Regions from separate parts of the Homo sapiens genome. Here region 2 is linked to region 1. The links come from fine-mapping of genetic effects on gene expression. A gene starts in region 1. The other region holds a variant in brackets. All regions are shown on one strand. Distances are between the middles of the regions.

The links. PIP is the estimated chance that this variant, and not a neighbour inherited with it, causes the effect.
Region 2: its variant is fine-mapped to the expression of YLPM1 in T cells (TOPMed, PIP 0.97).

What each region holds. Positions count from the first base shown.
Region 1 is chr14:74,761,120-74,765,507 of GRCh38, reverse strand. It overlaps YLPM1 (YLP motif containing 1), which reads right to left and starts at 2,192. Exons shown (of 21, transcript NM_019589.3): 1 at 1,146-2,192. The coding sequence starts at 2,018. RefSeq lists an enhancer at 2,145-2,484.
Region 2 is chr14:74,219,585-74,223,972 of GRCh38, reverse strand. No RefSeq gene overlaps it. Among named protein-coding and RNA genes, the nearest start is that of VSX2, 18 kb to the left of the region's middle. The variant C/G (reference allele first, on the strand shown) is at 1,980.

The sequences.
Region 1 (4,388 bases):
AACAGAATCATTATTCTACTACTTTATTTCAGCATCCCAAGTGTTTTCTCCAGAAGATGTGCCAAGCATCATTTCTTAAAACAACTTGCTTCTGTTCTTAATTTCTAATGCCAAACCACCGTAAAATTATAATACTGCATCCCTATCTTTTGGAAATCTTTTATAGGTAAATCTGAGCGTTTATATTACAAGATTCTCTTTTTTCCTTAGTGAATCTAAGGTAAATTAGTAATCGCTGAAAAAGTGTCTACTTTAGGAAATCATAACAATTGATTTATTCTGCTTTAGTTTGACCTTCCCTCTCTCAAGGGGGAACTCGTTTATTACTGTTACCCTGTCAATTTGTCTGTTCTGCGGGATAAGAATGGCTGACTCTCTCATGAAAAGATATCACCAAACTTTTTTTACGTTGGCCAAATTGCAAGGCTGTTTCTTTGGAGTGAATGGTAATGACAATGAAACGCAGAAAATTGCTCATTATCTTAAAACAATCTTTAAATAATATGAGAAAAGGATGTCTGGGTCAATTCCTAAAATGGACCAATCGATCCCCAAAAGGGTCTCGGGACTCATCTATGTATTGTATATGTACCTATAAGCATAATTAGGATGCTCCTGGTAAGACAAGATTTCCATCCTTTTTCTGAAACCTCTTAATTCAGGAAGCTGACAACTATCCCTGGCCCCTAAGTAATATTTTTAAAAGAAGCTAACTAATCATAAAGTTTACAAACATTCAAGTGTCAGCCCTTGGCGAGGCCTCTTTTTCATGCTTTCTCTCAAATGGAAACTTTCGTTTAAAATACAATTTTAAAACAAGACCCTCTGCAACAAAATCTATTTGCAACAGCAACAAAATCTAAGAGGATGGTCAAAGAAACCAAGGAATGTATCTGAGAGGTAACTTTTGAGCCACCCCACCACTGTATGTAATCCATACACATCTACAAACGCTGTTTTTTTGGTAATTCACATCTAGCTAATTAAAAAGCTGAGCTGTCAGCCCTCTGACTCTTACGGAATCCTTTGGAGTGTTAGCTAGTCATTGTGTGTTGGAATTAGACTAACCACTGGTTAAAGCCCTGAGGCCTGCTCATTCAGGGCCCTCTAGGTGAAAGATGAGGTTCAGGCAGATGCTTTCTTACCTGTGGAGTCATCGTAGAGGGATCTGGCTCAGGGGCGGCTTGCTGCTGTTCAGTACTCTTGTTTTTGGCCCCACTCTCCAAAGGCTCTTGCTGGACAGTTGTCTTATTTCCAGGGGGGGCGGACGGTGGTGGTGGAGCTAGTAGTTGGGATTTAGAATGGCCCTGGGAGGGGCGGGAAGGAGATGCCTGAGAAGAGGGCAAGTAGGACTGGGAATGGCTCAAATAGGATTGCGAGGAAGAGGAGGAGGATGAGTAAGAAGGGGTGGGCGCCAGGTAGGATTGGGAAGGTGGGGACTGCGAAGGGGACGGCTGAGCAGGAGGCAGGTAGGGCTGAGATGAGGTCGGGGGGTAGTAAGAGGGTGGCGGCTGAGGTGGGGGCATGTAAGACTGAGATGGGGGCATATAGGACCCAGGCGGCACAGGGGGAGATTCAGGGGGGGATTCCAGCTCCATTGGAACCAAACCAGGAGGCCCGTCTCGTTGGTGGTGGAGCATCTGGTGTTTGTACTGCTGCTGCTTCTGATAGCTGAGGGCCGGCCCGGGTGGCGGGGGCATCGGTGGCGGTGGCGGCTGCCAGTCTCCGTAGCCGCCCCCCGGCATCACTGGCGGGGGCGGCAGAGGGGGCGGAGGAAGGTGGTGGGGCTGAAGCACGCACTGCATTTGCTTCTGGTGCATCTGCTGCAGCTGCTGGAGCTGCGCCAAGTGCTGTTCGCGGAAGCTCATGAAGCCCGAGGAGGAGGGGGCCGCGGGAGTCGTCGAGCTCGAGTACCCGGGCCCCGGCGAGGCCTCAGGAAGCGCCACTGGCGGCGGCGGTGGGACCGGTGGCGGCGGATAGTGGCTGCTCCCGCCATACCGGCCCCAATTCGGGTACATATCGAAAAAGAAGGCGCAGGGCTCGTCCTGGCGCCGTTACTCGTCGCAACCGACCTCCAGGAGCCGCGGCGGCGACGGCGACAGCCGGAACTCGCGGCGCCTACAGGCCCCGGAGCGTGTAAACGGAGCGCGCCAGTGCGCCGGCGCTCCCGAGCTGGGCCCGCGACCGGGAAGGCGGGGACGCGACTTGGGCGACTACGTCTGCGCAGTAACCACCGAGAGGAGAACAAAGGCGAGATAGAGCGGTCCTTTACTTGGCGACTCGTGGTTGCCATCTTCCTTTGGGTTCAGATAATGTAGGCTCCAGTAGAATGTTCTCATAGAACTGAAAAACCATAGAGTCTCACAGCCGAAAGAGGTGGTAGAGATCCTATCGCTCCACGGGTTCATTTTTGAATGAAAAAAAAAAAAGGTTCCATTCACAATAGCAACAATCGCAACAACAACAAAAAAACATAAAGCAACTAGGAAAAACTCTAACAAGAAAGATGTAGGACTTATATGTAGAAAGCTACAGAGTCATAAAGAAGCATATCCAAGTAGGATGAAATTAGACTTCAAATAATGGAGAGGCTTACCATGATCCTGGGTGAAAAGAGGAAAAATTGTAAAGATGTCAGTTTCTCCCAAATTAAATGAATAGACCTAACTCAATTCTCCCCAGAAATTCAACTGGGAACAAAGCTGTGAAGAATGGAAAGGTGTTTTCAAGGCAGAGTGTAAGATTACACCAATTCCTGCAGACATATAGTGAGTAACATCTGCAGGAATTGTAGAAGGGGAGAAATGGAATTTTTTAGACTGTCTCAACACATATAAATCGGTGTTGCAGAATCTCAGAGCAAAAGCAAAGAGAGCAAAAACCAGATACAAAGATGGTCTAAAGACAACCTGGAAGATAATCTTCCAAAAGCTCTCAACGTAATACCAGACATAAACTCTTACTTTAGCTTGAGTGAATCACTAAAAAGCAAAGCTAATACACTGAATTCTTTTGGGTGTGTGGGGGGGGGCGGGGGGAGGGAGAACTGTGAGAATATTGTGTCAGTGCATCACTTGAGTAACATGCAAATAATTGACCTTTCTTCCATCTTAGCAACCCAGATCTTCACCTCTCTCAGGAGGTGAATGTGAATGGAAAGTGGAGCAGCAAGGCATCCTTCAAAAGGAAGAGCTTCTGTTTTCAAATAGAAATTTAGTTATGTTTCTTTTAACTTTTTATTGAAGTATAACGAATATACAGAAAATTACATGTCAAAAGACAAAATTACAACAAATTTAGTTTAAAGATCTTAATTAACTTTTACCTGCTATTCTAGAATTGGGCAACGTCTCATTCTATAAAGCAGAAACAGTGTTCCAATGAGCAGAACAATCGGGATAATTTCATAGACAGAAAAGAAACGCAGAGGCAGGGCGCGGGGGCTCACTCCTGTAATCCCAACACTTTTGGGAGGCTGAGGCAGGCAGATCACCAGGTCAGGAGATCAAGACCAGCCTGGTCAACATGGTGAAACCCCATGCCTACTAAAAATACAAAAAGTATCCAGGCGTGGTGGTGCTCACCTGTAATCTCAGCTACTCAGGAGGCTGAGGCAGGAGAATCACTTGAACCCAGGAGGCAGAGGTTGGAGTGAGCTGAGATCGTGCCACTGCACTCCAGCCTGGGTGACAGAGCGAGACTCCATCTCAAAAAAGAAAAAAAAGAGAGAAACAGAAAACTAAAAGTGGATTGTTTGTTTCAAAGTTTCTTTTCTTATAAGGTTAAAGCAGAGAGGACTTCTTTATCATGCTGGCTAAAAATGGACTGTTTGCAGACTTGGCTATTATTTCTCTCTCTCCTGGTTTATTGAATGGTCAGATAAAGATTTTAATTTTGGCATGGCAACATCAATAAACTCCATTTTGGTTTGTTCTGTTGGGCCTAATGCCCAACTTGCTATAAATTTTATTTAACACATGTCTTAAGTAGACAGCATAGTAAATTTTCACAAGCCAATCACACTTGTGAAATCGGCACCCAGATCAGGAACCCAACCCAGAAACCCTAGTTAGTTGTGTTTTTAATATTTTGGGCTGACATTTTCTTTTGAAAAATGTATAAATTTAGGCCGGGCATGGTGGCTCACACCTGTAACCCCAGCCTTGGGAGGCCAAGGCAGGCGGATCACTTGAGGTCAGGAGTTCAAGAGCAGCCTGACCGACATGATGAAACCCCATCTCCACTAAAAATACAAAAATTAGCTGGGTGTGGTGGCACATGCCTGTAATCCCAGCTACTCAGGAGGCTGAGGCAGGAGAATTGCTTGAACCCGGGGGGCGGAGGTTGCAGTGAGCTGAGATCATGCCACTGCACTGCAGCCTGGTCAA
Region 2 (4,388 bases), 540 kb after region 1:
CTTTTGGGGGAGACTTCTGTGAGAGCTTGTGATCGAGCGGTCCCCGTGGATCAGACACAGTGCTGGGCCTTCCATATGCTGCTGCCTCATCAAATTCTGTGGAGCCAGGCCAGGGAGCAGCAGCAGGGGTCAAGGCTGGGGAGAAGGGCTGTGTGAGCACAGGAGCCGTTATTATCCTCATTTTCCCCAAGTAATAGGGGCTCAGGGGTTTTAAGAAACAAAACTAGGGCCAGGCGTGGTCGCTTACACCTCTAGCCTCTAATCCCAGCACTCTAGGAGGCTGAGGCCAGTGGATCACTTGAGCCCAGGAGTTTGAGACTAGCCTGGGCAACATAGCAAGATCCCATCTCTACCAAAAAAAAAAAAAAATAGAAAGGCATGGTGGTGCACACCTGTAGTGCCAGCTACTCAGGAGGTTGAGGCAGGAAGATCACTTAAGCCCAGGAGTTTGAGGCTTCAGTGAGCTGTGATTGAGTCACTGCACTCCAACCTGGGCAACAGAGTGAGGCCCTGTCTCTAAAAAATATATTTTAAATAAATAAATAGAAACAAATCAAGACCTCACATAGTAGGGGAGGGCACTGGGACAAGCATGAAGTTCTTTCTGACCCCAAAGCTGGTGCAGGAGAGATGGGGAGATGAATGAAGACTCAGTGAGAGCCTTCAGAAACCCAGCCTGCGCCTGGTCTTGGAGAGCGGATGTTGGGTGCATTTTTCTGTAAGTATCCAGGAGGGTGTGGGGCAGAAGTTGCAAGGATGAGGTCAGGCCTTGGCTCCTCTGGGGCCTGCGGGTGGGTGAGACCAGGGGAGGGGGGAATGGGCCTGGGGCCGAGGAGGGCAGGGCTGGGCCTCCGGCTCTTTTGTGAGCTGTTTTAATTCGTGTAAATGAGGGTTTTTAATTTGTTATTCTGGGTTTTATTTCTATTACCATCTCATTTGCCTGTAAACCCTATTCTGCCCCTGCCTGGACCGAATTCCATTTGATGCATTAGGACTAATTCTCCTCCCAAAGGGTTAGATGTTTTCTCCCCACACAAAAGTCGCTTATTTTGGATAAAGAGACGATTAGATTTATCTTTAATATTTTAATGGCAGCTGGGATTAGTGGGCAAACAGCCCCGACTGGGGTTGTTCACGGCGGATTAAGTTCTGATCAACTCTCAGATGGGGAGCCCCCACCCCCACCCCACTCCACTTTCTGTTTTCCACAAAGTGCTTTTTATTATTTTTTGTTGAAAAAAAAATTCCCTTGTCTTTTGGAGCATCATAAATTCCATTTGCTGTTTTCTATTAAATCAAGTTGATTAAATTCGTTGTGACTCTTTGCACATAGATCTTTTTAATTTTAACGTCTCCAGCATAAAATCTTTAATGGTGCCATTTGAAATTGCTGCAATATACAGTACAGGCCCTGAGAAAACAGATGGAAATGAGGTTCTGCCAGGGATGGGGGAGGTCCTATCAGGAGGGGTACAGTTGGGAGAAGGCACAGACCTCCAGGTGAAGGCAGGGGACTGACTCTTCCTGAGGTCCAGAGAGCCCCACGTTCTCCATTCAGCTATTTTCTAGCTTCAGGGCTTTGGCTAGGAACTTGGCCCATGCTATGGAGGGCTTGCTATGTGCCTGGCACTGTGTATGCATCGCCAGTCATCCTTACAAGGAGGCTCAGAGAGAGGTCACTTGCTCAAGGTCACGTAGCAAGTCGGTGGCAGTGGTTGAGTCCAGATTGTCTTTGCCAATAAAGCCTCATCTCCCCTTTCATCAGTAAAATGGGGGTGATCGGTTCCGCCCTGGGTCACAGGTGCTTGGAAAGATTGGATGAGGTCCACAAACTGCTTTGGGAACAGTACAGAGCTGTGCTCTCCTGGGGGGATGGAGGAGTGGGGCTGACCCATTTGGGCCTCAGAGGCTCTGCTATCACTGGGTAGAGCTGCCTTTTGAGACCCTGGGAACCTTCACTAACTCCAGGGTCTCGGCTT[C/G]CCCCCGCCCCTCAGCTCTCCAGCTCTCCGGCCTCCGGCCTCAGGCTTTTTCTCCCCGTCTCTAATCCTGACCTCATCAAGTCCTGGGAAGAGGGTTGATCCACAGGAGCAAATCCCTCATTCAGAGGGGCAAAATCAGCTTAATTTGCAGCAATTTGAAGCAGGTCTTTGCCAGGATTTGAATATCAAATTATCCCACAGCCTGGGCTGGTCTGGGAGGCCTCCCCCGGCTGCAATATGGACCGATGTGCTCAGGCTTCACCAGGGAGATTGTCCTGGGAGTGACTGAAGCTGAGGCTGTGGAGATGGGAGTGAGTGTCAGAGGGTAGTGGGCAAGGTGGGGGTCACCAGTCAGCCCCCACTGCCAGAGGGCACTGCAGCAGTGACTGAGGGACAGATGGAGTTTGGGGTCAAAACCTCCTGTTCTTGAGACTCACCGGGGGCTCTTGTCAAATGTGCGGATTCCCAGGCCCTTCTACAAACATAAGAAATCAAGATTTTCTTGACTAAGAAAGTTTAGAAAAATCCGGTGCAGCTCAGTTAGCCAATCAACAAACACTTGCTGTGCACAATCTGTACTGCCTCTCATTTTGAGAGAATCAGCCTCCTCTGGTGCCCACCCTGTTCATTCCCAGCCTCTGGTACTGTGGACAATATTTCCTTGGCTGTCTGCTCCATGATGGCCCCTGAGGCCTGAGTCAGCGGCTGCAGAGAGCTCTTCAGCCTTCCCTTCCTGGTCTGCATGCCCAACTCCTCTGGCCACCCGGCCCTTTCATTCCTTTTCTGCAAGCTCAGGCCTAGCAGACATCCTCTTATGTCAGTCACACAGGCCTCGCTGCCCAGACCTGAGCCCCGGGGCTCAGACCCCTCTCATGGGCATGTCATGAGCTGTGAGCCTCTTCAGGAAGGCCCGAGGTTGGTGAAACATTCTGGTCCCGCCACAGTGTTGTGTCCCTGTGGGCCCTGCAGTGTAAAAGTAGCAGCCAGGGATGTTGGGATGGCTTTGCGCAGGCCCACTGTCCAGCCAGCACCATCAACAGAGATGAGAGGCTCTCGGTGTGACAAGCATTATAAGAGCCACAAGTGCTTCCATTTAATTCTCACAAAATCCTATGGAGTAGGTACTATTATTATATACACCCATTGTATAGATGAGGAAACTGAGGCACAGAGAAATTAGTAACATGCCCCACCCAGGTCATACAGCAATAAGAGGTGGACCTGGGATGCATACGCAGGCAGTCTGACTCCAAACTGCTCCTCTTAACCACTTTGTTCTGTCTCCATCTATCCACCTTTACCTAAAATTTTGTCCTTCTCTATATTCTCCACAGCAATGACTTGCCTTATTTTTAAAGGCATAATCACAGTGTGTTTGGGGAGCAAAGAAAGGAGCGCATAACCTACACTAGGGCAATCACAGAGGCTTTTTGGAGGTGGTGTCTTTATTTGTTCAATGATGTGGTAGAGCAACCACTGTGTGCCCAACACTGGTGATACAGACATGAAGAAGCCATGGAGCTCACAAACGGGGGCCTGAACACCCCATCGGCAGTGCTCAGTGCACTGATGGAGAAAACACAGGGCATCGTAGAAACACTGGGGACACCCCAAAGCCCAGGAGATCAGGGAAGACTTCCTGGAGGAGAGGCACTAGTCCCCTTCACTAGATCTAGTCATTAACCTGAGGTTCAGATGGCCCAGAGGTCCCACTGGGCACACTCACCCTTCTTTGTCTCAGCCAGTCCATCCTCCGTGGACCGTCTGGACCAACCAAGCTTGAGACCCTCTCTGACCACCTGTCCTAGACAGGTAGACCCCCTCAGGGGAAGTCTGTGTTCCCTACTGCTATGTGTTCTTAGAGGCGGGGCCTGAGCAGGAACGAAACTCCTGAACCCCAGATCCTATGCCTAGCAGGGTCTGGTGTAAGTCATTGGCTGCCTTGGGAAAGCCCAGTGGTTTGATTCAAGGATGACTAGAATTTAGAGCAAAAAGGGACCCCAGAAGCCACCCAAACCTGTTTTGAAGGAAGCCACAGGAGATGCCCACGCCCCACAGCTCAGAGATGCTGCAAATTCCAGCCTCCCAGTGCCCTATCTTCTCTCTGGGGTGGTCTAGCCCCACCTGGCACTCCCCCAGTCTTTGTCCCCGTGTCTGCCTTGCCTGATGGTGGCCAGGGGGCCTTTCCGGAATAACGATGGTATTGGCTCAGATTAAGGGCAACTAGCTGGCTCTTGGCTTTTCATTTTTATATAACAACTAATCTCCTTCTAATCAGCCATTATTAAATTATATTCCATTTTTAATTCATTCACAGATCACCGTTGGGACAGCTGGATGGATAATTGGAGAGAGATAATTTATGTAAATGAGGAGCAGCAGAAGGTGGGGGAGAGGGAGGCCCAGGGC